4 linked regions of the Homo sapiens genome follow. The protein of the gene in region 2 interacts with the protein of the main gene of each other region in a biochemical or structural test. Each region holds a gene or a part of one and is shown on either strand. Other genes may lie near its edges.

Region 1 (6,940 bases), on a different chromosome or scaffold from region 2:
TCAAACCACTCTTCACCCTGCGAGCTACGTTTTGGCCTGCACTGGCCTTCTTTTAGCTCCTAGAGCATGCCGAGCTTTCTCCTGTCTCAGGACCTTTGCACTTGGTATTCTGTCTGAAATGCTTTACCCCTAGTTCTTCACAAGCTGTTCCCCTCATCCTTCAAGTGTCAGCTTAAATAATACCTCCTCAGAGGAGCCTATGACCACCCTGTCTCATATACTCCCCTACCCTAAAATTATTTTTTGTGTTTTTTTTTTACCACTATACTATGTTTATTTCCTTGATAGAATATATAAGCTACAATTATTGTGTTTATTGTCTGTCCCACTAAAATGGAAACTCCACGAGGGTACTCTGTCTTACTTTCCCCTGTAGTTCTAGTACCCAGAAGTTGCTGGTATTAGAGTACATACACGATATAGAATGTTTATCTTCCCCTTCATCCAAACCTATAAGAAAAAGCAAACGACCTTCCATGTGTTCCTTAAGGATAAGAGGTAAGTCAAATAATCAAATTCTTAACGGAGATGCCTCAAAGTAATTATTCTGGTGAATCTCAGAATGATGGACGGAAGCATACAGGGCACTGTCAGTAAAGGATGAGAATGTTACGTAAGTACTAAAAGGTATAAGGTCAGAGTAATTTCTGTTGGGTAGGCCTAACTAAAAAGTTCAAGAGTGGGTTCTTGCCCTGCCTGCACCTATTACAGTCCATGTCACAGGGTAGGTACTCAAAACATGGGTACTACATAAATGAGTTTTTTCCAGATACTGGATATCTGGCAAATATCTAAAAGCTTAATACATGGCAGAAAATAAGAAAACACCTATTCCTTCCTCACAGGATCAAAATATAATAATAAAAAGATGTTTTATAAATTTTGTCTGAATACACACTTGAGATACGTTATTGTTAGAAGAGAATACTTTATTTTGAAATAAAATACAAATGTGCAAAGGAAATTAGCTCCTCCTGCCCCCCCTTTGAACAATGAGTCAATAGAATGTGAGACTGGGTAGATTAGCAGATAATAGGCAAAGGTCTAGCTTTTCAGTGGCAACTTGAAGAAACCAAAGATGAATGATGCTAAAGGAATGACCCTTTGGTACCTGTTTTAAAGTACTTCTGGCCCCCTTCTTTTATAAACCCCCAGGAGCCCAGCACCACACCTTGTTACCCTACAATGATCACTCACGCTCCACGATGTCACTAATGTAATAACTGAAGATATGGGCCAGTTTGTCCATGTCACGTTCCGACTTGTAGGTCAGGGTGAACCTGTCCATTAATGCTGTAAACCCTGACCAACAAAGCAGAAATTACGATGTTAACTCCAAATCCTAAACTTTTTGGCCCCTTTCTCCCCACACATCAGGCCAGTGTAAAGGAAACAGATCCCTTCAAGCTGAGTAATTCCTTTATCCATTAACATGGTGTAACTTAGAAACTACTAAGGGCCAGGTTGGTTGCTGCTGCCACTGGGAATCCAAAGGACCACCCTCTCTGCTTCCAAGAGCTGGAGATGGTGCCCTTTTCATCTGGAGCCAGCTCTTTCCCCTACTCTCTTAGGCTGCCTAGCTATGGGAAACAATAGGATCCCTCCTCATGTCTGGCTAGAGAACCACTCACACAGTGAGGACAGGCACCTGGTATTACCCATCTTCATATCCCTGACACAGAGTAAGTATTTGTTAAATGAACGACTCGCGGAGTGGCTGCTAGATAGCTACGGCCAGAACAACGGCGGGCATATACTTATGACGCCAAGAACGAATTAACTGAACGAATAAAATAATTGAAACAGAACGCTTAATAGAAAATGCTCGGGGTTGGGAAAAACGGGTTCAAAGCCCGGGGCGTGGTCCTGTAAAAATCCTTTCCTCTGAGTTTCAATTTCATCATCTTTGGGGTGAGCTCAAGGACTGAGCCGGTTCATCCCAAAAGATGTCCTCCCACGCTAAAACGAAGATACTCAAAGTTTCCTAAGGAAGCCGCAGCACGAAGTTAAACTGTGCCTTAGCTCGCGGGAGGCTAGGCCTGTAACCGTCGAGGCCTCCAGGGGCTTAGACCCAACGGCCGCCTCTCCCGCAGGCCAGGAGACTTAAGTGCAAGTGCCGGCCGTCGCCCTCACCCGTCACATGGACGCCTAGGAGGACGCCCTGGGCCGTGGCGAGCTCGGGTTCCCATCCCCGAGGCTTCCGAAAGACCAGTAGGTCGGGAAGCAGCGCCGCCAAGCGGGCCTCCACAGGCCACAGAGGCGGCGTCGCATGCCGCTCGCCGGTCACCATGGCTGCCCGCCTAGGTACCGGAAACAGGGCCCAGCCGCGTAGCAGCCAATCCGCCTAGCAGGCTCTATTGGAGGCCTGCCGCCGATCAATCCGCGCAGGCTTCCTTGGGACAACGCCAATCGGAAGCGACTTCAGTCGCCGCCCCACCACCTTCCCACATTCTTAGCGGGGCCTACTTCCCCGGGGAGAAGGGGCTGGAGGTGCGGCGGTCTGCGCTTTCAAAGGAGCAAAGCTGTCTTTTCTACTGGAAACGGGGGAGGCGAAGACGCTCCTACGATAAAGCCGTTGGTGTGAGATAAATATCGAGAGGTCTTTCCCTCATACCACAGAGTAGAATCTTGGGTCATCTCTGAATTTGGTAAGGACAGGTTCCACTGGCATAAATCTAAGCCAAACTCAAGCACAGTTTGACTAAAGCTATCAAATACTGTCAGTGCTTTTCCTTCATTGTGGAGAGTTTCTCCTCTCTCATCTGCCAGGGCAGGTCTACTGCTCTCATCATTGAGTGCTTCCTCGGGCTGTTTGTCTCTTGTGTGTTGATAATGGCATATCGGAGGCTTCTAGTCTTTGTTGCTTAGATTCCCAGCGACCGTAAGGTAAAACAGTAACAAGGTGAGCATGCTGTGGATTTTTAACAATCAGAAAAGTACTTTTGTTTTGGTCTTCTGCCAAAACAAAATCTAACAAAACGTAAATAGTACATCTTCACTACCTGAAATTCTACAATACTTAAGGCTGTTTTTGTGATAACGGCTAATTTTCCTCATGGAATTACTTCATCACATTTTGATAAACACTTTCAGTAGTAGCATCAAATGTATGATCAGCCTGCAGGTGACAGAAAAAATCTCCTCAACAGGGTGGAAGGGCCAAAAGGGAAGAAATTAAGGGGAGATAAAGCTAAGAGGCTCAGACATTACAAGTTTGATACTGTTTACAGAGACACCGTCCATGCAGACAAGTCTTGTCGGGGGAGATCAAAATTTCAACACTGGAAACACAAACTAGAACCCAGGAGTTGCAGATTCCTCAAAAGTCACATTACTTTTCGGTTATTTTTATAAATTTATTTTAAAAAATAACAATTGCAATGACATTAATGATCGATCACCTGTACGCCCCCATACTGCTGGGGGAAAAACCTTCGATATAGTTGAATCCCAAAGAAAAATCAAGACATTATTATCAGGCACCCTATAGCCACAAAATGCTCTGTTGGTCCAGTGGCATCGACACTGACATGTTCAATGTACCAGTGCAGTTAAAATATATACACTTAAAATTATCCTGCAAAAAAAAAAAAAAGCACTCAAGTTGCATAACTAGGCATTAAACCAATTATTCATTCATCCATTCACTCTTTCTCCATCTGTAAAGTTATCACTACAGTCACAAATAAAAATGAATAAAAGAACTAGTATCAAAGAAAAAATCCAAATGTCAATACCCTGCCCCCACTTTGTGGGCTACTATGGTGTGCCAAAGTGACCACAAGAAAAGGGTCATGAGCTATTTGAAATGCAATGACAAAATGACAACTGAAGCATTTCAAACAAAATTCAAAGTCATCTCCCCCCAAATAAAAAATTCAGCAACAAGGCTGGCATTACTATGTACAAACTTACAGACACAAATAAATAGCATCTTCTAACTGTTGGCAGCTTAAGCACTCAAAGTTAGGTCTGAGTAATTTCTTTCTGAACTCTGCATCTTAGACTCCTAAATTAACCAAGGAATATAAATTCCTCATTGTTAGTAATCTATTCTCTGAAAAACTTGGGACTTACTGAATAACATTAATATCCCAAACTCTTGTAGAGCTAGAAGTTTCTAGTGAGCTTACCAAAGGATCAGTCCTTTGACATCTGGAAGCCAGGAGCGATTACCAGATCCCTGGGACTAGGAATATTTCACTTCCTGTTTCCTTTGCATAGCTCTGTACCTCTATTTCTATCATTACAATCATCTCTCTTTGTGGTGTTTTTAGAGGGCTTAATTTCTGTCTTAATACAGTTAAGCTGAAGTCAAAGAAGAACCAATTTTTATTCTTGGTATTTAACCCCCAATGTTCCTCGGAATTATTGGGTTTTCCTTGTTTCCAGAGAAGGCAGCCAACTCTTCTGAAATATCATCTTAGTTCTCTCAGGGTTCAACATCTAAAAGAGAAATAGATTTCTGAGGCACAACCCGTTCTGGGAACAGTGGCCCAGTTCCTGACCCTGCAGGCATGTTTCTTTCAGTCTGCAGTTTATTCTCACAGTATGGATGCAATGAGAAAACCTTTCTGCACAAGGCCTATGGAGAAAACATGAAAACTGGCACCAAAGAATCAGCTGCCATGGGAAGAATGAAAATGCTCGCTTTCTAGGGCCAGCATTGTGCTGCAGGAGTGAAGCCAACATCCACCTCAAGCTTTAGTGGGTAACTTGGACTCTGTCCAGGACAGTGTGACTGACCAGTGCTTTCCAGAAATTGTCAAGGATCAAATCTCAGGCTTCTTCCTTTCAGTGCTTGTTAAAGGTTCTAGAGTAAATGTGAATTACTCTCTTCATCTTAATGATCCATTCCAGGTATCCATCCACTGGAGAATCGTGCTCTATGATAACATACGGGTATACATGCTCTCTCTCTCTCTTCCTCTCCCCCACTCTCTCCCACTAGGCTGAAACACATGAATCTTTTAGTTCCCCAAATGCTGTCACAAAGTCTATGATTGAAAATCTCTAGTTTGGCCCTTCCTTTAGGAGTATTACAAATCTCCTCAGTGCTTCAGCAAAGAAGTTGTTGAATAGTCTTGTTCTCTACTTAGGAAAGGCAGTTTCAAGGTTTAATAACCCTCTACATTGTCTTAGAAGTAGCCACAGCAAGTACGATGGTCCAGATGACCAGTCAACAGAGGGACAAGCAGGCCACAACTTTTCAAAGCTAGAAAAAGAGATTCGGCAATGTATATTTTTAGTGCTTGAGTCTTTTATCATTCTATCCCCAGAATTAGCTTTTTCTTGGCTAGAGTCCAGAAATATCAACCTACCATCTGGGCAGAGAGGAATTCTTATTATTACCACAGATTGGAAGAATGTATCTCAGGAATTTATTGTTTCCGTATCACAAGATAGAACTTCCTTGCCTGGAAGCCATCTCTGAATACAAAGCGTCCATTCAGTTAGTCAGTGTGAGATTCCCCCACCAGAGGGATAAATGCTGTCTAGATTCCATGGGAAGGAGTGGGCTGCTGCTTTCCTGATTGCAGTTTTGGTTGAGAAGGTTGTTCTTCCCTGCTGAGATGGCTGGCTGACTTCACCAGTCAAGGTAAGTGCTTTGTGTACTGCTGGGGTGGCATGTGTCTCCTTGCATCATCCGAATCCATGAAATGTCAATGTCATCAACAGTCTGAAATAGGTCCTGACTGAAAGAGTAAGACAAAGGCTTGCAACTTCAATTTGCCAGGCATCGCTGCAATTGTAATACTGAGCCACTTATTAAAAACTAAGTGGTTTCTGTCCTGTAGTAAAGGGCAGAATGTGATCATCAATGTCCCATTGGAAGAGTTGATCAATTTCCTGGAACAGTGAGAAACATGACCTTGATCAGCTCCATCACATGGCGTGGGGTTAGGACACTCGGATGATCTGTGTCATTGCTTCTTCATCGGCTTGGTTTGGATCCTAGAGACAAAGATGACATGATGATTAAAGTCCTTTGCAAAAGCAACAGGAACTCATGGCTCTCACTACTTATCCCCCCAAGAGAATACACATAACTTTACCAAGTAAATCAAAGGCTTGTAATACATCTTAAGTCTGCATACATGGCTTAAAGTGTAGCCCCATTAGGAAAGAAGAGACAATAAACCTTATTCTTAAAATAATTTAAAGTCTGGCCTGCACTCCATGGTGAAACACTGCAGGGCTGTTAGTGTATCTCTTTCCTAAGAACCTTGTGTTGTTCTCTATACTTAAGGGTTAAGAGTATTCAGATTCAGGTGTCTAAGGAAAAGACCCAGAGAAACCATGTCATGCTGTATTTTTGTCACTGTTTTTTGATCATCATTTAAATACTGAGTACTTAGCAGGGCTAGAAAGAATCATTAGAATCTATACACTTTAATGTACTCGTTTTACAGATAAATCTGAAGGCCAGATGGGTAAAGTGATTTGCGTGGACTAGGGTCAGGGTCAGAAAGTTAGGAGTCCAGCAAGGGCTAACTCCCAAATCTCCTGACTCCCATTTCATCTTCTTTCCACTAAACTCTATATGCTGTTTCTCACTTAAGACCTACCGTGTTAACACAAGGATAAATCCTTGGAAGCTTTTTGCAACACTCCGCAAGAACCACCTTTAGTTCCCCCATACCAAGGCTCTGAAGCCTTGGTAGGCAGGATCTGAGAAAAAGCTGAAAGCCTTCTGGAGATGGAAGACTGGAACTGGGTCTTGAACAATGAGCAAAAACAACTAGCATTTACTGAACTCACCATGCACTAGGTATGGTGCTACACAGATGCCTAATGTGGATTACTGAATGAAATCCCTACAACATTGCTGTGAAGTATCAACAGTATTCCACTTTACAGATAAAAATAAAAGAGGCTGAATTGACCAAGATCATATTGTTAGCACACAGAATGAGGAGAGTTCCTGGCACAATGCCCT
Region 2 (8,010 bases):
CTCCAGGGTTCAAGCAATTCTCCTGCCTCATCCTCCTGACTAGCTGGGACTACAGGTGCGCGCCGCCATGCCCGGCTGATTTTTTGTATTTTAGTAGAGACGGGGTTTCACCATGTTGTCCAGGCTGGTCACGAACTCCTGAGCTCAGGCAGTCCACCCGCCTTGGCCTCCCAAAGTGCTGGGATTACAGGCATGAGCCACTGCACCCAGCCCCCTCAAAGCACTTAGATTTTAAATGAGATCTTTCCTACTTAAACTGAAATAACCATTTAAAAAGCACCAAACACCCTAAGAAACAAGTATATCTTTCTGTGCTGATATCTCTAGAAAATAAATTTTTTAAATTAAAAAGAGAAACAAGTATAATACTAGGGAAAGACAAAAGACGCAGAAACATTCAACATTATATTTGATAAAATATAATCTTAAAATAGAAAATTCTTTCATATGACCTTTTGCACAAAAATGATAACTGGTAAGACATTTAAATCATCTAAACCTACTTTTCATTAATGTCCAAATGTACTGCTCTAAAACACAACTTTTTAACAAATTAGCTCTCAGCAATCTGACTCCAAGTTTAGTGACACCCTTGGCAAACCAACCCTGGTATCACATTCAACTTAACTTCTAAGAGAAGACATTTTCCTGACCCCAATAAAACCCAGCAGATGTGAAATTGTTATTTTTAGTACCTGAAATTTGGTTTGTGAATGAATTATACCCATCAAGGAAATATGTTCTATTCTCCTGCCAAAGCCCAGCCCTGCACTCTTTATTAGACAGAACTCACAAGAAGTCATCCAAACTTAAATCTTTAAAAGCCAACTCCCCGTCAACCTGCGGCAAGAGTTTCAGGATTCAGCAGCGGCTAAGAAAAACATCTGAGGCTTTAAATGAAAAGTAAAATAAAATAAAATAAAGATCTGGGAAAATATGACTACAAAATGAAAGGAAAAGCTGTTGATAAAAGAGGGAGGGGTGTCAATTTAAAAAAAAAGAAACATCACGCCTGTAATCCCAGCATTTTGGGAGGCCAGGAGATCGAGACCATCCTGGCCAACATGGTGAAACCCAGTCTCTACTAAAAATGCAAAAATTAGCGGCTGGGCACAGTGGCTCATGCCTATAATCCCAGCACTTTGGGAGGCCGAGGCAGGCAGATCACCTGAGGTCAGGAGTTCAAGACCAGCCTGGCCAACATGGTGAAACTCAATCTCGATTAAAAATACAAAAATTAGCCAGGCGTGGTGGTGGGCATTACTCGGGAGGCTGAGGCAGGAGAATTGCTTGAACCCAGGAGGCAAAGGTTGCAGTGAGCCGAGACCACACCATTGGACTCCACCCTGGGCAACAAGAATGAAACTCCGTCTCCCAAAAAAAAAAAAAAAAAAAAGATCATTTTAAAAAATAATGAATGTAAACAGACTAAGTGAACACCATGGAAGCTGCAATCTTCCACAATCATGTAATATATCTCATTTTGTACAGTGATATATACATGTATCATACAACATTTCACATCCAATGTTCTTTCTACATCGTACCAAGAAGTTGAACATACTGCAAAAAGGTTAAATTTTACAGTAAAATAACTATCAGAGAAGGGGGTAAAATTAGATACTTTTTTTTTTTGACAGGGACTCACCCTACTGCCCAGGCTGGAGTGCTGTGGCGTGATCATGGCTCACTGCGTCCTCAACCTCCCGGGCTCAGGCAATCCTCCCACCTCAGCCTCCCAAGTAGCTGGGACTATAGGCGTGTGCTACCATGCTCAGGTAATTTTCATATTTTTTGTAGAGATGGGGGATCCCTATGTTGCCCAGGCTGGTCTTGAACTCCTGAGCTCAAGAGATCTGCCTGCCTTGGCCTCCCAAAGTGCTGGGATTACAGGCATGAGCCACTACGCCTGGCCAAAACAAGATACTTTTGCCAGCAGGAAGGCAAAAGCTGAAAAAGGAGTAAGCCTCTAGGAAGTGATTTTATTATCTTTCTTTAAGGATGAAGTCATATCAATTAAAGGGGAAATACTACACAATTATTACTAGCCAGAAAGGAGAAAACTTGGATCTTCAAAAACCCCTATTAATGAAGCAAACAATCTCAACTCTTACAAAACAGCCTGTCAATGCCTCATTATCTCCTTAGTGAATGTCAAGCTCCTCTTACCTTACAGAAACACACACGCATTTTCTTCAGCTCAAACACCATCAGTAACAACTAGGTAGCCCTAGTCTATGACATATTAAATGGCAGACTTCCCCAGAGCATGATTTAGCAATGAGAATGCCTCATAACTGTTCTCTAAACCCTAAGTTATAAGCCTTTTAGAAATTGCAAGGATCCAAATTATTAACAGGAATAATCCCACAGTTTGCTCTGAAGAAGAGCAAAACCGGGCACTTCAATCTAAGAGCAAATAGAAAATAAACATGATGGTGTAGGTTGCCCAGAAGTGTCTAATTTTCTACGTTGTAGAGGTCAGTTTTTATAAAACTTTTCCCATTTCTATTCCCATAAATGTTTAGTTTATAAAACATTTTTATAAATGTTTTATAAACATCTGTCAGTTTTAGAGCATTAAATCTTAAATCAAAAACACCTTTTCGAATACATTTTTTTTTTTTGAGACGGAGTCTCGCTCTGTCACCCAGGCTGGAGTGCAGTGGCACAATCTCAGCTCACTGCACGCTCTGCCTCCCAGGTTCACATCATTCTCCTGCCTCAGCCTCCCTAGTAGCTGAGATTACAGGCACCCACCACCACGCCCAGCTAATTTTTTTGTATTTTTAGTAGAGATGCGGTTTCACCATGTTAGCCAGGATGGTCTTGATCTCCTGACCTCATGATCCGCCTGTCTCAGTCTCCCAAAGTGCTGGGATTACAGGCGTGAGCCACCAGGCTGGCTCGAATACATTTTTAACAATCTAAAGAATTGTTCAAGTCCCTAGTTAAAACAGGTTGCACCCTAGACTAGTAAAACTAGCCTCAGCTCTGGCTGTTGTCTCATTAAGTGATTCTCTGTACCTCAATTTCCTCATCTAGAAAATAAGGCAGTTGTACTAAATAACTTCAGTCCCTTCCAGCTCTAACTTTCAATTCTAAGATTTCAATTAACTAAGAAAATTACTGTCTTGTTAAAGCTCAACATGTAGTATTTCTAAACACACCACAGGAATGTAAGAAATCAGGGAACTTAAGCAGACTTTCCCCCTAGATTTACCAAAACTGCAGGAGGCAGGAAATATGGTTGCCTATTTGCTACCCTCACTTATGTAAGAATCAGTTAAATGGAATGAGAACTTGGTAACAAAAGTAAACAATTTATAAACCCACATATATATGCCAAAAGAACTAGAAGTGGCCAGGCGCAGTGGCTCACGCCTGTAATCCCAGCACTTTGGGAGGCCAAGGCGGGCGGATCACGAGGTCAGGAGTTCGAGACCAGCCTGACCAGCACAGTGAAATCCAATCGCTACTAAAAAAATACAAAAAATTAATGGGCATGGTGGGACGTGCCTGTAATCCCAGCTACTCGGGAGGCTGAGGCAGAAGAATTGCTTGAACCCGGAAGGCAGAGGTTGCAGTGAGCCAAGATCGCACCACTGCACTCCAGCCTGGGAGACAAGCTAGAGTCAGTCCCAAAAAAGAAAACGAAAAAAAAAAAAAAAACAAACCTAGAAGTTGGGTGATATTATTTGGTGATATTAAACTATTTTCCGTATTTGTATAATTGTGCCAGCATATAAAGATGTATGTGTATCCTTTTATTGTGCTTTATTAAAGATTAGCTCCATACAATGGAATTTAAAATGATAAAGTCAGGCCGGGCATAGTGGCTCACACCTGTAATCCCAGCAGTTTGGGAGGCCAAGGCAGGCAGATCACTTGAGGTCAGGAGTTCGAGACCAGCCTGGTCAACACAGTGAAACCCCGTCTCCATTAAACAAACAATTAGGCGGGCATGGTGGCACACGCCTGTAATCCCAGCTACCTGGGAGGCTGAGGCAGGAGAATCACTGGAACTCAGGAAGGGGAGGTTGCAGTGAGCGGAGATTGCACCACTCCACTCACTACAGCCTGGGCAACAGAGCAAGACTCAGTCTCAAAAATGAAAAAAAAAAAAAAAAAAAGATACAGTCTACATAGACTTACATCTGTTTACTGTTTTAAATTTCAAATTAATAGTGAAACATTTAGTTCAAAATGAAAGACCCTGAACATTATGGTCAACAGATTCAATATTCTTCCCAGACTGTTTTTCCCTTCAATGCTCTCCTCATTCCTAACTCTTCTCAATCCTACATCCCCCACTCCATTCCAGACCCCAACTTACCCCACTCCCTTTCCTTCTCCCTTCCTAACCACACACAGTACTTTCAAAGCAGTCTAGGAAGTTAGACTGCTACCTAGAAGTATCAGAATCACCTAGGATGCTCATATGTTAGTGTGAAGGGAAGCTATGGGATTTTGTTTTTCAGATAACTAGGAGTTAAAAAAAAATTCAATCCTGATTAACCAGCACACTCAGAGTGTGGGATATTCTGGTTAATACTAACCAGGGAACTTACTTCGTTGAAAAGCAACCCGTTAGATCATTTTCCCTTCAATTAGGAGTTACAGTTCACAAGAAATATCTGATGATTTAATCTGTGTTCTACAAACAGGTAAAATTCATAATCAATTTTTTTTTTTTTTTTGAGACGGAGTCTCACTCTGTCACCCAGGCTGGAGTGCAGTGGCACGATCTTGGCTCGCTCCAAGCTCTGCCTCCCAGGTTCAAGCGATTCTCCTGCCTCAGCCTCCCAAGTAGCTGGGACTACAGGCTTGTACCACCACGCCCGGCTAATTTTTGTATTTTTAGTAGAGACGGGGTTTCACCATATTGGTCAGGCTGGTCTTGAACTCCTGACCTCATGATCTGTTCACCTCGGCCTCCCAAAGTGCTGGGATTATAGGCGTGAGCCACCGCGCCCAGCCCATAATCAAATTTATTTTTATTTATTTTTTTTTTTTTTGAGACGGAGTCTCGCTCTGTCACCCAGGCTGGAGTGCAGTGGCGCGATCTCGGCTCATTGCAACCTCCGCCTCCCTGGTTCAAGTGATTCTCCTGCCTCAGGCTCCTGAGTCGCTGGGACTACAGGTGCGCGCCACCATGCCCAGCTAATTTTTTGTATTTTTAGTAGAGACAGGGTTTCACAGTGTTAGCCAGGATGGTCTCGATCTCTTGACCTTGTGATCCACCCGCCTCGGCCTCCCAAAGTGCTGGAATTACAGGCGTGAGCCACCGCGCCCGGCCGCCTTTTATTTTTATTTTTTGAGACAGGGTCTTGCTCTGTCAACCAGGCTGGAGTGCAGTGATGTGATCTCGGCTCACTGCAGCCTCTGCCTCCCAGGTTCAAGCAATTCTTGGCCTCAGCCTCCTGAGTAGCTGGGACTACAGGCGCGCATCACCATGCCTGGCTAATTTTTTTATTTTTAGTAGAGAAGGGGTTTCGCCATGCTGGCCACGCTGGTCTTGAACTCCTGACCTCAGGTGACCCACCCACCTCAGCCTCCCAAAGTGCTGGGATTACAGGCGTGAGCCACCGTGCCCAGCCACCCGACTAATTTTTGTATTTTTTTTTTTTTTCAGAGTCTCACTCTGTTGCCCAGGCTGGAGTGCAGTGGTGCAATCTTGGCTCACTGCAACCTCTGCCTCCCAGATTCAAGCAATTCTCATGCCTTAGCCTCCCGAGTAGCTGGGCCCATAGGCATGTACCACCACACCCGGCCAATTTTTGTATTTTTGTCGAAGACAGGGTTTCGCCATGTTGCCCCAGCCGGTCTTGAACTCCTGAACTCAACCCATCCACCTGCCTCGTCTTCTCAGTGCCTGCATTACAGGCGTGAGCCACCACACCCGGCCCATAATCAATTTTTATCCTATGGAGGAGTTGGCCTACAGGCCAAAGAAGGCCTTAGAGCTAAGAATGGTTTTACATTTTTAAAGGGGTGTGGAAAAAAAACATACAAAACAGAAAATGTGGCTGGGTGCAGTGGCTCACACCTATAATCCCAGCACTTTGGGAGGCCGAGGCAGGTGGATTCACATGAGGTCAGGAGTTCGAGACCAGCCTGGCCAACATAGCAAAACCTTGTCTCTACTAAAAATACAAAGATTAGCTGGGCGTGGTGGTGCTCGCCTGCAATCCCAGCTACTCAAGAAGCCCAGGCAAGAGAATCGCTTGAACCCGGGAGGCAGAGGTTGCAGTGAGCCGAGATCACGCCACTGCACTCCAGCCTGGGTAACAGAGTAAGACTCCATCTCAAAAAAAAAAGAAAAAAGAAAAAAAAGAAAAGAAAGCCGGGCGCGGTGGCTCACGCCTGTAATCCCAGCACTTTGGGAGGCCGAGGCGGGCGGATCACGAGGTCAGGAGATCGAGACCATCCTAGCTCACATGGTGAAACCCCGTCTCTACTAAAAATACAAAAAATTACCCGGGCGTGGTGGCAGGCACCTGTAGTCCCAGCCACTCGGGAGGCTGAGGCAGGAGAATGGCGTGAACCTGGGAGGCGGAGCTTGCAGTGAGCCGAGATCGCGCCACTGCACTCCAGCCTGGATGACAGAGCAAGACTCTGTCTCAAAAAAAAAAAAAAGAAAAGAAAATGTGACCACATGAGGCCCACAATGTCTAAAATATTTACGTTACTATCTGGCCCTTTACAGAAAGCTTGTCAACCATTATTCTGCAGCACCAAAAACACTGAGTATTACAGACTCCAGAATATTGCCCAGAAGTGCTCCTTCCTCAAACTAACTGGAGAAGTTTCCTTTACTTCAGTTCCAAATTACTTAAACAGAATCTCTATTTCTCAAATTTATTTGCCTAAATGACTAACCCTCAAGAAAGTGTTATCTCAAAAGGCTCTATTCCTTTCTTTAGACTCAAGTTTCAGCTACGATGCTAGAGTTGGTTCCCAATAAATGCACAAGATTGGAAATCTTACCTGGGGCATTTGCTATAGCCAACGGCAGGCCTTGAATTGGGTGCACCTGGATTCCTGAAGTACCCAATGCACTGAGGTTAATGGTCTGGAGGCCTGGCATGGAGGAGAGTTGAGCAGCATTCACAGTGACTGTGCCAGCAGGAATGGAAGCAGCTGAGGCAATGGGTGTGAGAGTGGTGTTGCTGCTGCTGGTCTGCCCCAAGGAAACACCCTGCATTGGGGCTAAGGTGATTGTTTGGGCTTGTGGGTTCTGAACTTGGAGGTTCTGCAGCTGTAGAGTCTGCCAACTGACCTGTCCATTGGGCCCCACTGTTGGTGTCCGGATGATGATGGGACCAGAGTTTGGAACAGCCTGAAGCTGGAGGTTCTGGAGGGTTTCCTGGGAGATGGCTTGAGTTGTAAAGGTCTGCCCTGACAATGGTGCTGCTTGGAGGGCCTGGAGGGCCTGTCCCCCTTGAACTAGCTGAGGCTGGATAAGAATTTGTTGCTGCTGTGTCTGCTGGTTTTGCTCTCCTTCTTTTTGCTGGCCTGCTTGCAATGAGCCTCCAGATGTCTGGTTTTGCTGGATGTTCAGAGCATCAGACCCCTGTAGCCCACTGACCCTCTGGGGTGTCTGGCCTTGAGAGTTGGTCCCTGATGATCCACTGGTAGTAAAGTTCATAATTCCCATGTTGCTGGTGGTAGTAGTAGTTGAGTAGCTATTGGCATTGGTGAAAAAGGAGCTGGAACTGGCTTGTGATGATACCAAGCTGGCAGAACTGATGGTAGTCCCTGAGGTGACAGGCTGTGAGCCACTCTCCTGGGACCCAGAGCTGCTGATCGTGACTGCCTGAGAGCTGGGAGTCAAGGTAGCTGCAGAAACGCTGTTGACAGGTAGCAAGGTGATGTTCCCATTCAGGGCCACTGGTACATTGGTCACATACTGAGTCTGTCCTGAGAGTACATTATTAGCCAGGCCTTGGAGGGGGACAGCCTGCTGGAGTAGGTTTGGCATAGCAGCAATGATGTTGCCTCCACTTC
Region 3 (8,010 bases), on a different chromosome or scaffold from region 2:
ATTATAGAGTTTGGCTGAGTAAAGCCACCATTCTTCCAAAACCATTTACAAAAGGTCATCTTCTAATCTGTTTGTCTTTTCAGGCACTTCAGACACCACCTCCAACAACACAGCAACCGTGATTTCCACAGCGCCTCCAGCTTCCTCAGCAGTCACGTCCCCCTCTCTGAGTCCCTCCCCTTCTGCCTCAGCCTCCACCTCCGAGGCATCCAGTGCCAGTGAGACCAGCACAACACAGACCACCTCCACTCCTTTGTCCTCCCCTCTTGGGACCAGCCAGGTGATGGTGACAGCATCAGGTTTGCAAACAGCAGCAGCTGCTGCCCTTCAAGGAGCTGCACAGTTGCCAGCAAATGCCAGTCTTGCTGCCATGGCAGCTGCTGCAGGACTAAACCCAAGCCTGATGGCACCCTCACAGTTTGCGGCTGGGTAAGGCGCTTTCTCATCTCATTCACGTCTGAGGTGGAGGTCATCCCTGGAATTACTCACAGGGGAGACTTTACATCACTGACTTAGATGGGGAAAAAAATGTCTTTAAAGCAGTAATCTCTTTGAAGTGGGCTGTTTTGTGATCATACAAGGACTTTGATTATAGTTGAGTTTATGTTTCTTAACACCCTGGGAAGGGCAGTAGTCATACCTTTGTTTCCAGATGAAGACCCAAAATACCAGGTCACTAATTACCTTAGTGACGGGGCCAGGAAGAAAGCCTAGAATTCTTGACTCTTATTTTCCCCATTAAACTCTCTCAACTGCCTACTTCCTAATTCTCAAGCATAGATAAGAGATGTAATAGGAGTCTCAATTTTATACTGTTATTGTCACACATTATAAGAATTATCTTGTAAATATATCTTTTTCTCTAGAATGTTTCTTTCATTTTGGAAAGAAAGAGAAATAAGTCTTTCAAAGAAGGGTCAAAATGACTATAAAAGTTTTACATTTTGTGCTGATCATAACCTCGTTTGTATGAGTAAGCATCCAGGAAAGCAGTAACTGAGAAGCACAAACCATAGAAGAGTAAAGAAAAATAAATATTTCCACCTATTTCCCCAGCTGGATTTTCGTTTTGTAAGTTCCTTTTGGTGTGTTGTCAAAATGAGACCTGCGTCTGCATGGTAATAAAGTGACTCCTCTTTTGGACTTGCAGAGGTGCCTTACTCAGTCTGAATCCAGGGACCCTGAGCGGTGCTCTCAGCCCAGCTCTAATGAGCAACAGTACACTGGCAACTATTCAAGGTCAGTAGAAGCCTTTTTCTTAATTTGGTGGCATGCACGTGTGTGTGAGTGTGTGTGTGTGTGTGTGTGTGTGTGCTTGAGACAGAGATAGAGGAAGTCTGCTTTGCTAGAGGTAAAAGTGATGGGAAAGAGTCAAATGCTGACTAACTTGTTCTTGAGAACTAAGAAAATGTCCTCGTAAAAAAGCTTTGTAAGAAAAGTATAGGTGTTAGTATGTGAGTAAAAGCAGGAAATATACTTAGTTTGGTATATGGTAAAAAACCAGAACTTTCATGCTAATATTGATCTTATGTGAGTAGACTTGAAGCCAGATTTTTTTCCCCTGATAAGTTTATCCCAAGTATTAATCTAAAACCCGTCTCTAGGCAAACTTGACCAAGTAAGACTCTCCAGTTCCCAGCTGCACTCCTGAGAAAGCTGTGCATGGGAAAGTCCTGTAATGAACAAACATTGGAACACATCAGGTGGACCTCAGGAGTGCTTTTAATTCTCATTAAGTTCTGCTCTTTTTATATCGCCGTTAGTGTAGAACATATATTCTCTTGGATTATAATGTCTCTTTTCCAAGCTCAGCTGGGTTCCTTTTGCCTTTTAGCATGTTACCCAGGGCAATATTCATTCCATATACTGAAGGGTTCCACTTGTTTAGTACCTAAGCTTTCTGTCTAAAAATGTTTACTGTTATGTGATTCAGGGAGACAATTTGAGAGACATCACTAATTAATTAGAATTTTTTTCTTAAAATAGTTTTGCTAAGAGGCTGAGGCAGGAGGATCACTTGAGGCCATGAGTTCAAGACTGCAGTGTGCTATGATCATGCCTGTGAATAACCATTGCACCCCAGCGTGGGTAACACAGTAAGACCCTGTTTCTAAAAAAAAAAAAAAAAAATTAAAGTGTTTTGTGCATAAATGAGAATTCTCAGGGCCAAAAATAACTATTAGCCAACCTAAATTAAGATTAATATTTCACAGGTAATATCTCTAACAGTGTACTAGAGAATGTTAATTACAGACAAAACCAAACCATGGCCTAGATTACCTTACATTATATTGACTTTCTGATTGACTAAATCATACCTGAATTGGTTAGCTCTAAAGCTTTTGTTATATAATAATTTTTTTTTGCAATAGAATTTGTGATAAATCACTTTTTCTTCTGCTTTATTGAATGTTTCTGTGCTGTGTTGATACTACAAAGGCAAAATGTCTTCCCTAGGGCATGATTGACACTCTGAAAAGATACTAAGTTTGGAATCTCAGAAAAACTTCAAGCTGCACTGTCTCACTGTTCTGTACTATTTGTATGAGCAAGGCCAAAGTCAGAGGCATTCCCTTCAGCTATATTTTATGTAAGAAATCAAATGTGTAATGCCGTTAGAAAATCCCTCAAATCTACATGTAGGAGTGAGGTTATATGGCTAGAGAGATTTAGGAATGTTGCCAGACAACAGGTTGAGATACTAAATGAGAGTCTCGATTATTTTAAATAAAATGTTGATGATGCCTTCTTTGGGGAAGCAACAGCATCATAGAAAATTTCTCACCCATTAAAGCACATCCTAGACTTAGATCACCCACCTACATCATTATGTCTAATTTCCTGCTACAATAGATTCATCATTCTCCTTTGCACAAGTCATAGAAATCAAGTATTTAGCCTCAGGAAGTGAGAAATTAATTATACCTTTTAACTTTATTTGGTGATACATAATTTATTTTAGAACTAAAGCCTTTTTGCAAGATGATTTTCATCTTGTATATCATAATATAAAGCAGTGGTCCCCAACCTTTTTGGCACCAGGGACTGGTTTTCTGGAAGACAGTTTTTCCATAGCCACATTGTGGTGGCGTGGTTTCTGGATGACACTGTTTCCACCTCAGATCGTGCTCTATGAGAATCTAATGCCGCCACTGATCTAACAGGAGGCAGGCCTCAGGCTGTAATGCCCACCACTCACCTCCTGTTGTTAATGCTTTAATCACTTCAGCTAGTTTGTCCTTTGAACAGAGGTAGTTTAAAATCAGCAGTCTTCATTAAAGACAAAATTATTGGATTTATCAAATATGTCTAGGTAAATGAAATAAACTGGTGATTTCAAGACACGAACATGACTCTAATTCATTAGACAGTTATTAGCTGTCTTCTACCCCTGCTTGTGCCCATTAAATTAGACATTTCAGTCTTTTAGGCTCTTCAAAATTAAAAATAAACTACAATTGGTATCAATATAGCACTGTGTTTGAGGAAAAAAATTCAGTGAAGGGCTATACTTTTTCCTGGTGGGTTGTAGGAAAATGATAGACTTTTGATGTGTTATTTGGCTTCTCCAGGATGATGTTAATGTTTTCATTCCTGCCTGTTTTGGGGGGTTTTTGTCTGTAGCTCTTGCTTCTGGTGGCTCTCTTCCAATAACATCACTTGATGCAACTGGGAACCTGGTATTTGCCAATGCGGGAGGAGCCCCCAACATCGTGACTGCCCCTCTGTTCCTGAACCCTCAGAACCTCTCTCTGCTCACCAGCAACCCTGTTAGCTTGGTCTCTGCCGCCGCAGCATCTGCAGGGAACTCTGCACCTGTAGCCAGCCTTCACGCCACCTCCACCTCTGCTGAGTCCATCCAGAACTCTCTCTTCACAGTGGCCTCTGCCAGCGGGGCTGCGTCCACCACCACCACCGCCTCCAAGGCACAGTGAGCTGGGCAGAGCTGGGCTGCCAGAAGCCTTTTTCACTCTGCAGTGTGATTGGACTGCCAGCCAGGTTAATAAACTGAAAAATGTGATTGGCTTCCTCTCGCCGTGTTGTGAGGGCAAAGGAGAGAAGGGAGAAAAAAAAAAAAAAACCACACACACCCATACACACATACCAGAAAAAGAAAGAAAGGATGGAGACGGAACATTTGCCTAATTTTGTAATAAAACACTGTCTTTTCAGGATTGCTTCATGGATTGGAGAACTTTCTAACCAAAAATTAAAAAAAAAAAAAAAAAAAGAAACAAAAAAATCAAAAACAAACAAAAATAAGTGAAAGGACTACTTATCATTTCCAGCAGTCATGATGACAAGTTAAGGTGGGTTACCAATTCCAATATAGGAAGGGGATTTCTTGTTTGTCTAAATTTCTTTTTTTCTTAAAAAAAAAAAATCATTTTTATGGGTCTGTTGTACAGGCCATTAAGTCATAACAAGGTGTTTATAATCGTATCAATTGTGTTGGGGGTTCCTTTCTTAACTGGTACAATTTAGGCAGGCCTGTATTACTGTATTATTATTGTTGTTGTTGTTATTGTTTTATATATATAGTTTGGACATGTTTATTATCTCTTGCTCCTGGATCCTATTTCAGTGAGCTCCCACACTGTGGGGAGGGAGGGTTTTGGGGTAAGGGGAGACTTCTGTTCTTAACTGTGGGGAATGTTCTTGCTGGTTTCCTTATCCTTGATGACTCTTACAGAGGTGCTAGAAAATTATTTTCTTTTGCCACTTATGCAAGAGGCTTGGTGCAGAAGCTGAAGGCAGTGTGTGCAAACACTCCCATTCCACACACGCCCCTTCCCCTCCCCACATCAGGTGGTGCCTTTGGAGCACTTTTGTGTAGGAAGGAATTCCTGCTGAACTGTAGCTCTCACTCACCCCCAAATCATTGAATGACCCTGAGGCCCAGTTCCTGTGGTGCAACAGTGCTGCTTTCTGCTACTTTCAATGGGAACAGCTGTACATGTTGCAGGGCAGGATTTGGTTCCCAAGAGCAAAGACTACTGCAGACACCTGACTTGGTGGTTCTCCTGATTTCTTATCTCCTGAAAAATGCTCCTGCTGTTGGTGTGTTTGTTTGTTTGTTCCATTTTGTGGAAGTTTTTCATCCAAACTTTAACTAACTTGGCAAAGAAAAAAAACTGACTTACTGAAATTGGGAAACTTTTCCCTTCTTTTATTTTCTAAAGGAATTCTACTAGACTATTTTCCATTGATAATATATACAAAAGAGGTGTGATGAGAAGGGTATAAGGTTACCACCTTTTCCTCTAGAGAGCCACAGACTTCCTTTCCACTGGATGGTTTATAAATTCCTCTAACCCTGAGATTCTTCTTGGTTCTCTGACTAAAGGAGGCACTTATTAGCCGGGCTGGGATCTGTAGAACCTTTGAAGAAGGACTTTGAGCAGGAACTTTGCACACACCTTAAGTGTCTCCTTGGTTTGTTCATGATGCTCCTGCTAGGTAGGTCTAAATGGCAATACACATCTCTTTATTCAATGTAGAAAGTAATTAGCTCTGTAATTATTTTCAGGGTGTTTGTAGACTATATAAATGAGCCCATTGAAAAGGAAGAGTTTGTGAAAGTGGATGAAGAGGAATAAGGGTAACTTGGAGATTAAATTCCTTTTTTTGTCAGTGTACTGTTGTTATGCCATCTGTACCAAAAAATTTTCCAAAAGACTGGATCACTGCAGTGCAGCTCATCTAAGTTCCCCTTCTTATTGGAGTTAAAGGTTCCCATTTGGTGGCTGTGGGTGCTTGCTTAAATCTCTGGTGGTCCCAAGACTGCACTTTTTCTCCCTTTCGAGCTGGGGATGTAGAGAGAACTTACAGGTGATTTTTATTCTGATTGCTTTTGTTTGTGTCCACAAGGGAGCTTGGATTCTGTGTACTTGTCTCTTTCCCATTGTCCAGTAAGGCAGTAAATACAGACACAATGTGTACTTTTGTGTGTGATTCAAGTGGGAGACAGTCTGTTAAAAGGTCAGAAACATTTTAGTCCCCTTTAAAATATTTCTTTTAGTTTATTTCTATCGTGTTTTATTTCACAGATATTTAATTACCACCCCTAAATTTCCTCCTCTTACCCTTCACCTTCCCTAAAATCCTTCCAAAATCAGTGAACTGCAAGCAGGGAAACTAACAAATGTCCATTCACCCTTTTTGTGTGGTGTGTTTTTTTATGTTTTGTTTTGTTTTTTAACTAAGCTTGAACCAAAGTCAATTTTTAGCAAGCTGCTGTACTAATGGACTAGTTGATAACGTGCAGTTCAGACACATCGAGGAGATAGATGCTACTGACAATTTCTTTTTCATTTGTCTTTATTAATTTTATATGAAAGTTGCTGCTTGTTTTTAATCTTTTATGTTGGTAAATTGTGATATCCTCTGGGCAGACATTAACTTGATGTTTAACTAGTTTATTAGGTTGGTGTGTAAATAGAATGACAATGTCAATTACTAATTTCTCTCCTCTCCATTCACTTTTTCTCTGTTGTAGTTAAATTTAATCTTCTATCCTGACTTGACATCTCTACCTTTAGTCTGTGGAAATGATTTTAGGGCTATCAGTAATGCTGTAGCTGCCCATAATAATGAGTCCCTCCCTTGGGAGTGGTGAAACTTAGAAGGAAGGATTCAGGGAGGGAAATGCTGGTACCCAGTATACTGGATTAGAAGTTATAGCATTAATTTCTCAAAATTGCTACCAAAGGAAGTGTGGAGTCCCAAGGGACTCAAGCTCAGTGAGGTAAGACAAAGGGCAAGGAAAGGCTGTTTGGGTGGTTTTTTTTTCCCCACATATGGTTTAGAAAATGATCCCTTTCCCAAACAAAACTCACCAACAGACTTTAATATTAGAAAAGATACTAAGCTTTAAATGTCAATACAGTGGTCTTTTATTCCCTGCCCTGTCTATATTTTCTACTCAATTTGGGATAAGGGGATTTTATGTGAAGCACTTGATGAGGGTAGACCAGCATAAAAAATCTGTTTAAAAGAAGAAATAATCTTTAGGAAAAGATAAATCTTTAGATAAAAATAAATTTTTTTCTCTTTTTTTACTTATTTAAAAATAAGTTGTGAAATGAAAGGTACATTTACACATGTACACACGAAACACTAATATAGCTTTTTGGTGGTTGTTTAGTTTAAAATCAACTCCCTATCCATCATCCCTAGATATTCTACTTATCGTATTGCTTCATGAACACCTTAGTCATTTTTTACTTTACGTATATATTTTTTTATCATCTCAAGAAATGCATTTTGAATTGAATGAACTATCTTCTAAGCTAAGATACTCAAATTTAACTTTTAGCCACCTTATATGGGAGAGCCTGGAAACTAAAGGGGACCAGGGACCATTTGACCAAAAGAGGTGTTTGGTGGAGTTTCTGCATTTCAAAGAAGAAAGGCCAGATAGGTCATCACAATTCATTGTATTATTCTTTTTTTTTCCCCTTAATGTTTATGCAAATTTTATTTTATATTTCTGAATTTGGTTAGCACATACTAAGCCAAAGACTATTCTAAATGCATTTATAGTGAATACTATGTATGCCCATGGTAATGGGTCCTCCCTAAGGAGTGGTGAATGTAATTGTGTGAATCCTGCTTATCACAAGTGGTGCAATTTGGTCATAAACTTTATTTATACCCTGTATACATCTGAATAACAGAGCAGAAAGACCTAAAAAAGGGCTTCTCACAGGAACAATATTACTATGTTGTTCTAAGAAAAAATAAGTTGAGTGCTGTATTAGTTTAAGTGTTTCTAAAGTTCTATAGGCAGCATTTTAGAATTAAGAATTGTGTATATCCATTAACTGATATAATTCACATGTCCTTTTATTTGTTATCAGAAAGATCAATACTATCCCAATTTATTCAACTTGTTACCCAAGAAATGGAACCAAAGGAATCCAACTTTCATTTTGTGTAGAATCATACCTACTTATACTTAATGCTAGCACTGTAAGAAATAAGTCTTTTTTGTTTAAAAAAGGGAAG
Region 4 (8,010 bases), about 39 Mb from region 2:
AGGTTAAAAAAATTTAAAAGATATTTTAGGTGAAAATAGGCAAGGACAAGGATCATTGATGAATACCTATTAAGGCGCTAGAAGTATTTTTTTCACTGTAAGATAAACAATAAGCTAACACAGTACACAGAATTACTAAAACTATTTTTGAACTTTAAAATAAATTATTTGAAAATTAACTCTCCATTTACTACCCTTTGCTCATTTTAAGTGTTTTAAGACCTCATCTCTCAACCTCAGTTTCAGTGAAATAAAAATTTGTTTGCTTTCTTGTAAACAGATCACAAACTCATTAAAATACATTTTTCTTTCTATATTTTTCCATATCTTTCTGATTTTAATACTCATTGTTAGTAACTCCTGAGCTTCCTAGTCCCCAGAGTTTCCAGAGAGACAGAGTAACTGGGATGCTTGAGATGAAAGGTTTACATAGTCTTTATTTAGCAAATCCTCACATCGCACAAAGCACAAAATTAGCCATGGCTCCAATTAGAGTGACTCCAAGCCAGAGCATCCAGAACACAGCAGAATAAACTGGCCTGCTATGGTTTGCCTCTTTTATACGCATGTTAGTTTCCTCTCCATATGTCAAGCTCAGCTTGAGATTTCTTCATTTTATTCAAAAACCTCCTCCTATCACCCAACTCCCAGTTTCCAGATATGCTTAGAAGATATTACTGGATCCCCAACACTTAAAACACTCAGAATTCACAGAATTAAAATAGAGTTGCTAGAGTTTTTTGTAACGGAAAGAACTTGGGATTTAAAAAATGGTATTAACAAATTCTACAGAGACGGGTAGGGCCTTATATTTCTTTAATTTTATTTTGTCCACAAAGCCTGAAGAAAAACTAAGAATGGGTCTCCTTCAACCCAGAGTAATAATCAAAGGCCCTTGGTACACAGACAACTTTAGACATAATTTCAGGTAGTTCCTGGGACTCCTGAAACTCATCCAAATAGTAGGTTAACAATGTCTTTTTTACTGCCGGGTGTGGTGGCTCACACCTATAATCCCAGCACTTTGGGAGGCCGAGGCGGGCGGATCACAAGGTCAGGAGATCGAGACCATCCTGGCTAACATGGTGAAACCCTGTCTCTACTAAAAATATAAAAAATTAGCTGTATGTAGTGGTACATGCCTGTAGTCCCAGCTACTCGGGAGGCTGAGACAGGAGAGTCGCTTGAACCCGGGAGGCGGAGCTTGCAGTGAGCCGATATCGCACCACTGCACTCCAGCCTGGGTGACAGAGCGAGACGCCATCTCAAAAAAAAAAAAAAGAATGTTTTTTTTAGAATCTGTCCTTACTTACAGATAAGTTTCTGTTATAATTCCTTTGATTTTCTTGAGGATAAGGCTATAGCCTTATCACAATTTGGCAAGTTTTCATAGTTCCATATTCTTTCCTTTCAAGCAGACTAGACAGTAAGCTCATTAAGGGCAGATACCAGATCTCATAATTTTGGTAATCCCAAACACTTTGAGAAATAGCTGAGACAAATTACATGTTTAATACTATCAGATGACTACTATCTTTAATAAGGTTCCATTAAGTAAAGGTAGAAAACTGTGTTTTTAAAGGATTACAAAATAGAATTTACATTAGGGGACTTAGTTTCCCATTTCAGAATTATACTTTATAGAACTTTATTCTAAGGAAAAATGGAGGACAAAAACCATTGCCTTAGATAAGAGATTGGCAAATCTTTTTTGTAAGCGGCCAAAAAATAGATATTTTCAATCTTGTGGGCCACATGACCTCTGTCTGACACAACCTCTTAATTCTGTCCTTGTTGCAGGAATCAGCAATAAGTGCTATGTGACATGTAAACAAATAAGTGCAATAAGTGCTATGTGACATGTAAACAAATTACCATAGCTATGTTTATGTAAATAAAACTTTATTTACAAAAACAGGGCTCACAGGCCAGTCTACCCCATTCACTGATTTAGATTACTGGCTCCATGAAAATATTTGTAACAAAACAAGAAATTCCTACAGACAAATTAAAGACAATATCCATTAGAAAAATGGGCAAAGGAGATGAACAGGCAATTCACAGATAAGGAACTATAAAAGGCCAATAAACATATAAAGATTCTCAACCTAACAAGATCTATCAGAAAAATAAGGCATGACTGGTAATGTGACTTTTCCAGACATTTTGTATTAGTTTTATTTAACCAATACAGAATGGCAAATAATATCTCCTATGTGAATTTTTGTGCTCTCTTTAAAAGCAAAACCTAGCGGGGAAAGTCCCATTGTATTATCTCCAATTCTTCCCCTCCCATTCTCTCTGAAACCCAAATCAGGTTTTCCACTCCACCATTCACCAAAACTGCCCCTTGGTAAAAGTCACCAATGATCTCCAGATTGTTAAATACTTCTCTTCCATCTTATGAGCACACACAGCAGCATTTGATATAGTAAACGGTTACCTTATTCCCTCCTCAAAACAGTGTTTTTACTTGGCTTCTGAAACACCAAAATCTCTGAAACACCAAAATCTCTCCATTTTCTTCCTACCTCAGGGGCTGCTCTTTCTCAGCTCCTTTGTTGGTTCTTCCTTATCTCCCCAACCCTAAACACTGAAATGCCAAAAGCACAATTCTTGGATCTTTTCTCCATGTATACTTACTCTGAGGTGATTTCATCTTGTCACCTAATAGCTACATGCTACCTACTATATTTTTCTAATACAAGTCAAGTCTCTGATCTGAAATCCAGACTTACACATCTAACTTGGACAACAGTACTCATTTGAAAAATGATCTTCCTCCTATACACCTCCTTCCAAAATCTACTTCATCTTTGGTCTTCCTCAACTCTGAAAAGAAAAATCTGCAACTTGCACACTAGTGAATAGAACTAAGAAGCTCCACAAAGAGAAGCCAAGTACATAAGTAACAGCTAAATATAAATGGATTGAGATGATAAAGAATTTTAACTGAACACAATAAACAGTGACAACAAATTAACAGTAAATTGACTAAATCATGCCAATTCTATCAATACTAACCTACAGCAAAAATAGAAGGAAGTCTCAAATTCTAGTCTAATGTAATTATCCTCATTAGCATCAGTTTATGTTTATTTTATTTACCTTAAAGATCCAATGAACAAGGGGAGGAAAATATCAACCACAGATTTTTATTTTAATCTGAAATAAAATCTGCAAGGAAACTATGTCAGTGTTTAATGCAAAAAAAATCTAGTTCACTCTAAAACAGATTTTTCTCTTCAAAAATCTTATGTTTAAGAAAAAAAAGCACGTGGAGGAGGCCTATCCCTATTTTTCCACAAGAAATAGAATGAGAAAGGCCAAAAAAGAAGGGAAGATGGAGAATGCAGTAACCCAACAGCTAAGGGGAGTCTCAAGAGGGAAGAACTGTTATTAAGAGGTCATCCAAGTATGGAAGAATAGATAAGACAAAGAAAAGATGTCCCCGGATTTAATAACATGATCATCAATGTCATTTCACTGAGAAAAATTAGGAGGGCGGCAGCTACCAAGGCAGAAATCAAAATCCAATTAAGTGGAAGGCCTAACAGAAGAAGAAATGGTCCTAGCTTTGTTAATATAACTTGAAGAATGGCACTAAAAGAAAGGAAAGAGATGAAATAGTAGTTAGAGGAAAGTATATGGTATGGCGATGAAGCTCCTCTAGTGTTTGAACTTTCCCAGAGAGATAAATCTTTATTTTGCTATCCTCTTTAAACAGATTATCATTTTAATAATTAGTGAGTATTAGTTATAACATAATACTATGTCACAATTCAGTAATGTCTCTAGACCTATTAAGGTATATATGCAACACTTTTTTAGTTCTTTCTTCTACTTTTGTAAAATTAAAATAGCTTTTCTATTTGCTTTATCTTTCATTATTTCTTGTTGCTGCTGATACACATCACAATTGCTTTATTTAAAACATATTTGCTCAACAAGTGCCTGAAATGACAGAAGGTTATGCTATTTTCCTTTTACTACACTCATAGATGTTAGTAGCTAGAAGGAAGAGCCAGTACTGAAGCCAACTTTAGTACTTCAGCTAATAATTCTGTGTTCTGAGTATATTAAAAATTAGTCAAGAATAAAGGCATTTATTTAAGTAACATTTCAACAGGAGTACAGCAACATAAATGACATGCAACAGATTCTGTCGCCATATAAAGAGAACAGAGTACAGTTTAAGAACCAATTAAGAAACTATTCTTAAACTCAAAATACACAAAATTACCTTCAGAGGAAGGGGAAAAGATACAAAATAAAAGTTTAGTTATGAGCCAAGAAATTAAATCTATCACTAAATTTACCCTGCTAATAGCATACCATCAGATTAAAGGCAAGTAACCAAAAATATTCCCAACTTTGAATTTTCAAAGTATGCAACATGGATGGCTTAATATTCATCTCTCAGCACTTAACTGCCTTGTGTGGGATGCCCTCCAATATCAAGATTCTGACATAAAGGTACTCATTAAATCATAAGCTGCAATTTGCTTTTTTAACTTTCTTATACAGACTTTTTTTTTTTAAAGGACTTATAAGGCTTTTTTATGGACTTGGCCTAGTGCCACACTCTGTATAGACACTTATAGGAAATGGATGAAATTCATTCTCAACACTGTCACCTATTACCTTTCCAAAATGTAAATTTCATTCTCCTCTCTGCTTGAAGTTCTTTATTGGCATTCCAGCGCCATCATAAAGCTTTAGCATTATAACCAAGGTCCTCCATGATATGCTTCTCTTACATTATTGATTATTCATTCACTTTACAAATATTTACTGGGCACTTACTGTGTGCCAGGCACCGTTTTGGCCTGATGATGGTGACTCGCAGCAGGAGTAATAACAGTTGTGAATTGGACTCTAGATCTATTATGATAGTAGTACCAACAGAATTTCCTGATGGACTAATTATGGGGTGTGAAAGAAAAAATAAAAATGGTTCCAAAGTTTCTGGCCTCAGCAAGTAGGATGGAGCTGCCATTAAAAGGAATTAGACTTGGCCAGACGCGGTGGCTCACGCTTGTAATCCCAGCACTTTGGGAGGCTGAGGCAGGAGGATCACGAGGTCAGGAGTTTGAGACCAGCCTGACCAACATGATGAAACCCCGACTCTACTAAAAATACAAAAATTAGCCAGGCGTGGTGTCGCGCACCTATAATCCCAGCTACGCAGGAGGCGGAGTGGGGAGGAGAATCACTTGAACCCGGGAGGCGGAGGTTGCAGTGAGCCAAGATCGTGCCACTGCACTCCAGCCGGGGCAACAGAGCGAGACTCCATCTCGGAAAAAAAAAAAAAGAATTAGACTCATTAAAACCCTATGTTACAGCAGAGCCAATATAGCAAGACCCTGTCTCTACAAAAAAATTAAAATTTTGCCAAGTGTGGTGGCACATGTCTGTATTCCCAGGTACTCTGGGGGCTTAGGTGGGAGGATCACCTAAGCCAGTAAAGTGGAAGCTGCAGTGAGCTATGATTGTGCCACTGTACTCCAGCCTGGGCAACAGAGCAAGACTCTGTCTCACAAAACAAAAACAAGCAAACAAAAAAAACCTCTGTTATACAGATATTAAAAGGGGCAAGACATCCCTAATACATCTGGTGCTCTAATAAAGTTACCTTAATCTGCACTCCCAGAATGCCAATTTAACATTATCACTGTACTCACAGTCTTGTATTTAATGGCCTATGATTTAATTCTTGTGTGTATCCTGAGGGCAAATACTATCTTCAAATCTCTAGAACCAAGAAGGGCCTGGCCTGTCTCTTTATATAGGTTTAGTTGAATGCTCTTTGAAAATAAAAAGCCATCCTTTTTTTTTTTTTTTTTTTTTTTTTTTGAGGCAGGGTCTTACTTTGTCACCCAGGCTGGAGTAGTGGCGCGATCTCGGCTCACTGCAGCCTCGACCACCCAGGTTCAAGTGATCCCCCTACCTCAGGCCCTCAAGTACCCTGGACTACAGACAAGTGCCACCACGCCTGGCTAATTTTTGTACTTTTGTAGAGACGGGGTCTCACCATGTTGCCCAGGCTGGTCTCGAACTCCTGAGCTCAAGCAATCTGCCTGCCTCAGCCTCCCAAAGTCCTAGGATTATAGGTGTGAGCCACCTTACCTGGCCAAAAAAAAAAAAAAAGCCATTTTTTAATAAGAAAAAAATCTCTACCTCCAAAAGCTGGTATGATATATTGGGGAAAAAAGTTGTCTCTGTCTCTTAGACCTGCCTCCATTTTTTTTTCTTTGAAGAAATTAGATGGTGTTTTATGCTAGCAAGGTCACTTCTCTCAGAGATGTCTAAATCTAAAAGAATGTGATATAATGGGAAAAGAAAGGTATTCATGCTTTTCTCAGTCTTCCACAGGCTTAGAAAGTTTCATAGAGGAATAATGTTTTTCAGTTTGACCATAAAAGAAGGTAGAATTTTTCTCATTCTTTTTCTCTAGGAATAATAAATAAAATAAAAGAGATGGGAGAGATAGGTACTGAACAAATCATAAAGTTAATGTACCTTTTACATAAGGAGTTTGAAATCAACCTAAAAGTAACAGAGATCTAAGACATAGACGGACAATATCAAATAAGAGAATTGGGTTACAGGGAGCTCATTCAGAAAATGAGGAAGAGAATAGGTTGGGTAGAATCAAAAGGGCTGAGGGAGCAAATGGGTAAAGTCTTTATCAAATGGATAATCAAGCTTTAAGGTTTCTGGCTTACAACAATGGTGCTGTCATTCCTGGACAAAGAATATTAAAGAACAGGATTTCATTGGGAATATTAATTGAAAATATAATTTGTTACACTTGAAGCAAATAGATTAAACTATTAGGCTTTTAGTTCTAAGTTATTTGTTCGCTAAGTGATAGCAAGAAAGAACTGCTACAACTCTAGTCAATTATGTACTAACTTAAACTGTTATCTCAGTGTTATGGTGCTCTACTTCATCTCTATTTCCAGACTATAAGGGCATATTTTCTACTTATTTTATCTCCCTTCTTAGTATTTAGTACAATGCTACTCACAGAGTACACACACTAATTCTGAATTCTATGAAGTTAAGACATCTTTCTATAGAGTCATCACCATTCTCAACTTTCTCTGCAGCTAAAATAAATTTAAAACATTATGATAATGTTTTATTAAACAGTTCATCAAAGTCAATAAAAAATCTTTAACATTTAAGTTATATGCTAACCTGGAGAGCACGTTTCATTTTGCGATATAACTTCAGACTCATCTTTTTCACCCGAAATATCCTCTTCATCAGAGAGGACCAGAAAGGCTTCTTTTGGCAAACTCTCACTACTTTCTTGTTTAGATGGTGAACCAAAAGAACTTTCCATTTTCTCTTCCAAATCTGGATTTGTCTCATCGATTGGAAGGAGAGATGTTTTAGAAAAGCAAGTAAGTTCATCCTCAGAAGGTGCAAGCTTTTCCAAAATAGGAATGATTTCATCTGTCTCCATAGAGTCTGTATTTTCTAAGATATTCTCACTTTTGTTATCTTCAATAACATTTTCATTAATCGTTTCTACAAGATCTGCAGAAGTTTCATCTTCATTCTTTTCACCTTGGTCAATTTCCATACTGCTAGATATAGCATCTTCTCCAAGAGCAAGCTCTGTGATAATATCTTCCTCTACCTTCTTTTCATTTTCAGGAGGTCGATCTGAACAAATAGTTGTATCATCTGTTTCTAGAGTTTCTTCATTAGCATCAATATTATTATCAGCTTTATTTTTCTCATCCAATGAGTCTTTACTCTGAATTTGCTCTAATTTTTCATCAGCTCCATTTTTTTCAAGAAAATCATCATCTTTATTGCTACTTGGTTCTATATTGTCAATTTCAGGAACTGGTTCACAAACTGGTACAGACTTTGGTTCAAAGGTACGATCAAAGGTTGATTCAGAAGTCAGCTCATCAGAGGCCAGTTCACCAGTGGCCAGATCATCAGAGGCCAGTTCACTAGAGGATAGATCACCAGAGGCCAGATCAT

What was found.
Region 1: the proteins of SP1 (region 2) and NFYA form a complex in vitro, tested with the Homo sapiens proteins (2 studies listed by BioGRID).
Region 3: the proteins of SP1 (region 2) and POU2F1 form a complex in vitro, tested with the Homo sapiens proteins (3 studies listed by BioGRID and IntAct).
Region 4: the proteins of SP1 (region 2) and ATF7IP form a complex in vitro, tested with the Homo sapiens proteins (3 studies listed by BioGRID).

The regions. Positions count from the first base shown.
Region 1 is NC_000006.12:41,096,372-41,103,311, reverse strand, and holds the end of NFYA (nuclear transcription factor Y subunit alpha), read right to left. Parts: intron 5,956-6,940; coding exon 5,902-5,955; 3' UTR 909-5,901; downstream 1-908. UniProt on the Homo sapiens protein: Component of the sequence-specific heterotrimeric transcription factor (NF-Y) which specifically recognizes a 5'-CCAAT-3' box motif found in the promoters of its target genes.
Region 2 is NC_000012.12:53,382,603-53,390,612, reverse strand, and holds part of SP1 (transcription factor Sp1), read right to left. Parts: coding exon 6,991-8,010; intron 1-6,990. UniProt on the Homo sapiens protein: Transcription factor that can activate or repress transcription in response to physiological and pathological stimuli.
Region 3 is NC_000001.11:167,411,876-167,419,885, forward strand, and holds part of POU2F1 (POU domain, class 2, transcription factor 1), read left to right. Parts: intron 1-83; coding exon 84-429; intron 430-1,150; coding exon 1,151-1,239; intron 1,240-1,986; coding exon of another isoform or gene 1,987-2,003; exon of another isoform or gene 2,004-3,624; coding exon 3,625-3,935; 3' UTR 3,936-8,010. UniProt on the Homo sapiens protein: Transcription factor that binds to the octamer motif (5'-ATTTGCAT-3') and activates the promoters of the genes for some small nuclear RNAs (snRNA) and of genes such as those for histone H2B and immunoglobulins.
Region 4 is NC_000012.12:14,424,670-14,432,679, reverse strand, and holds part of ATF7IP (activating transcription factor 7-interacting protein 1), read right to left. Parts: coding exon 7,207-8,010; intron 1-7,206. UniProt on the Homo sapiens protein: Recruiter that couples transcriptional factors to general transcription apparatus and thereby modulates transcription regulation and chromatin formation. Can both act as an activator or a repressor depending on the context.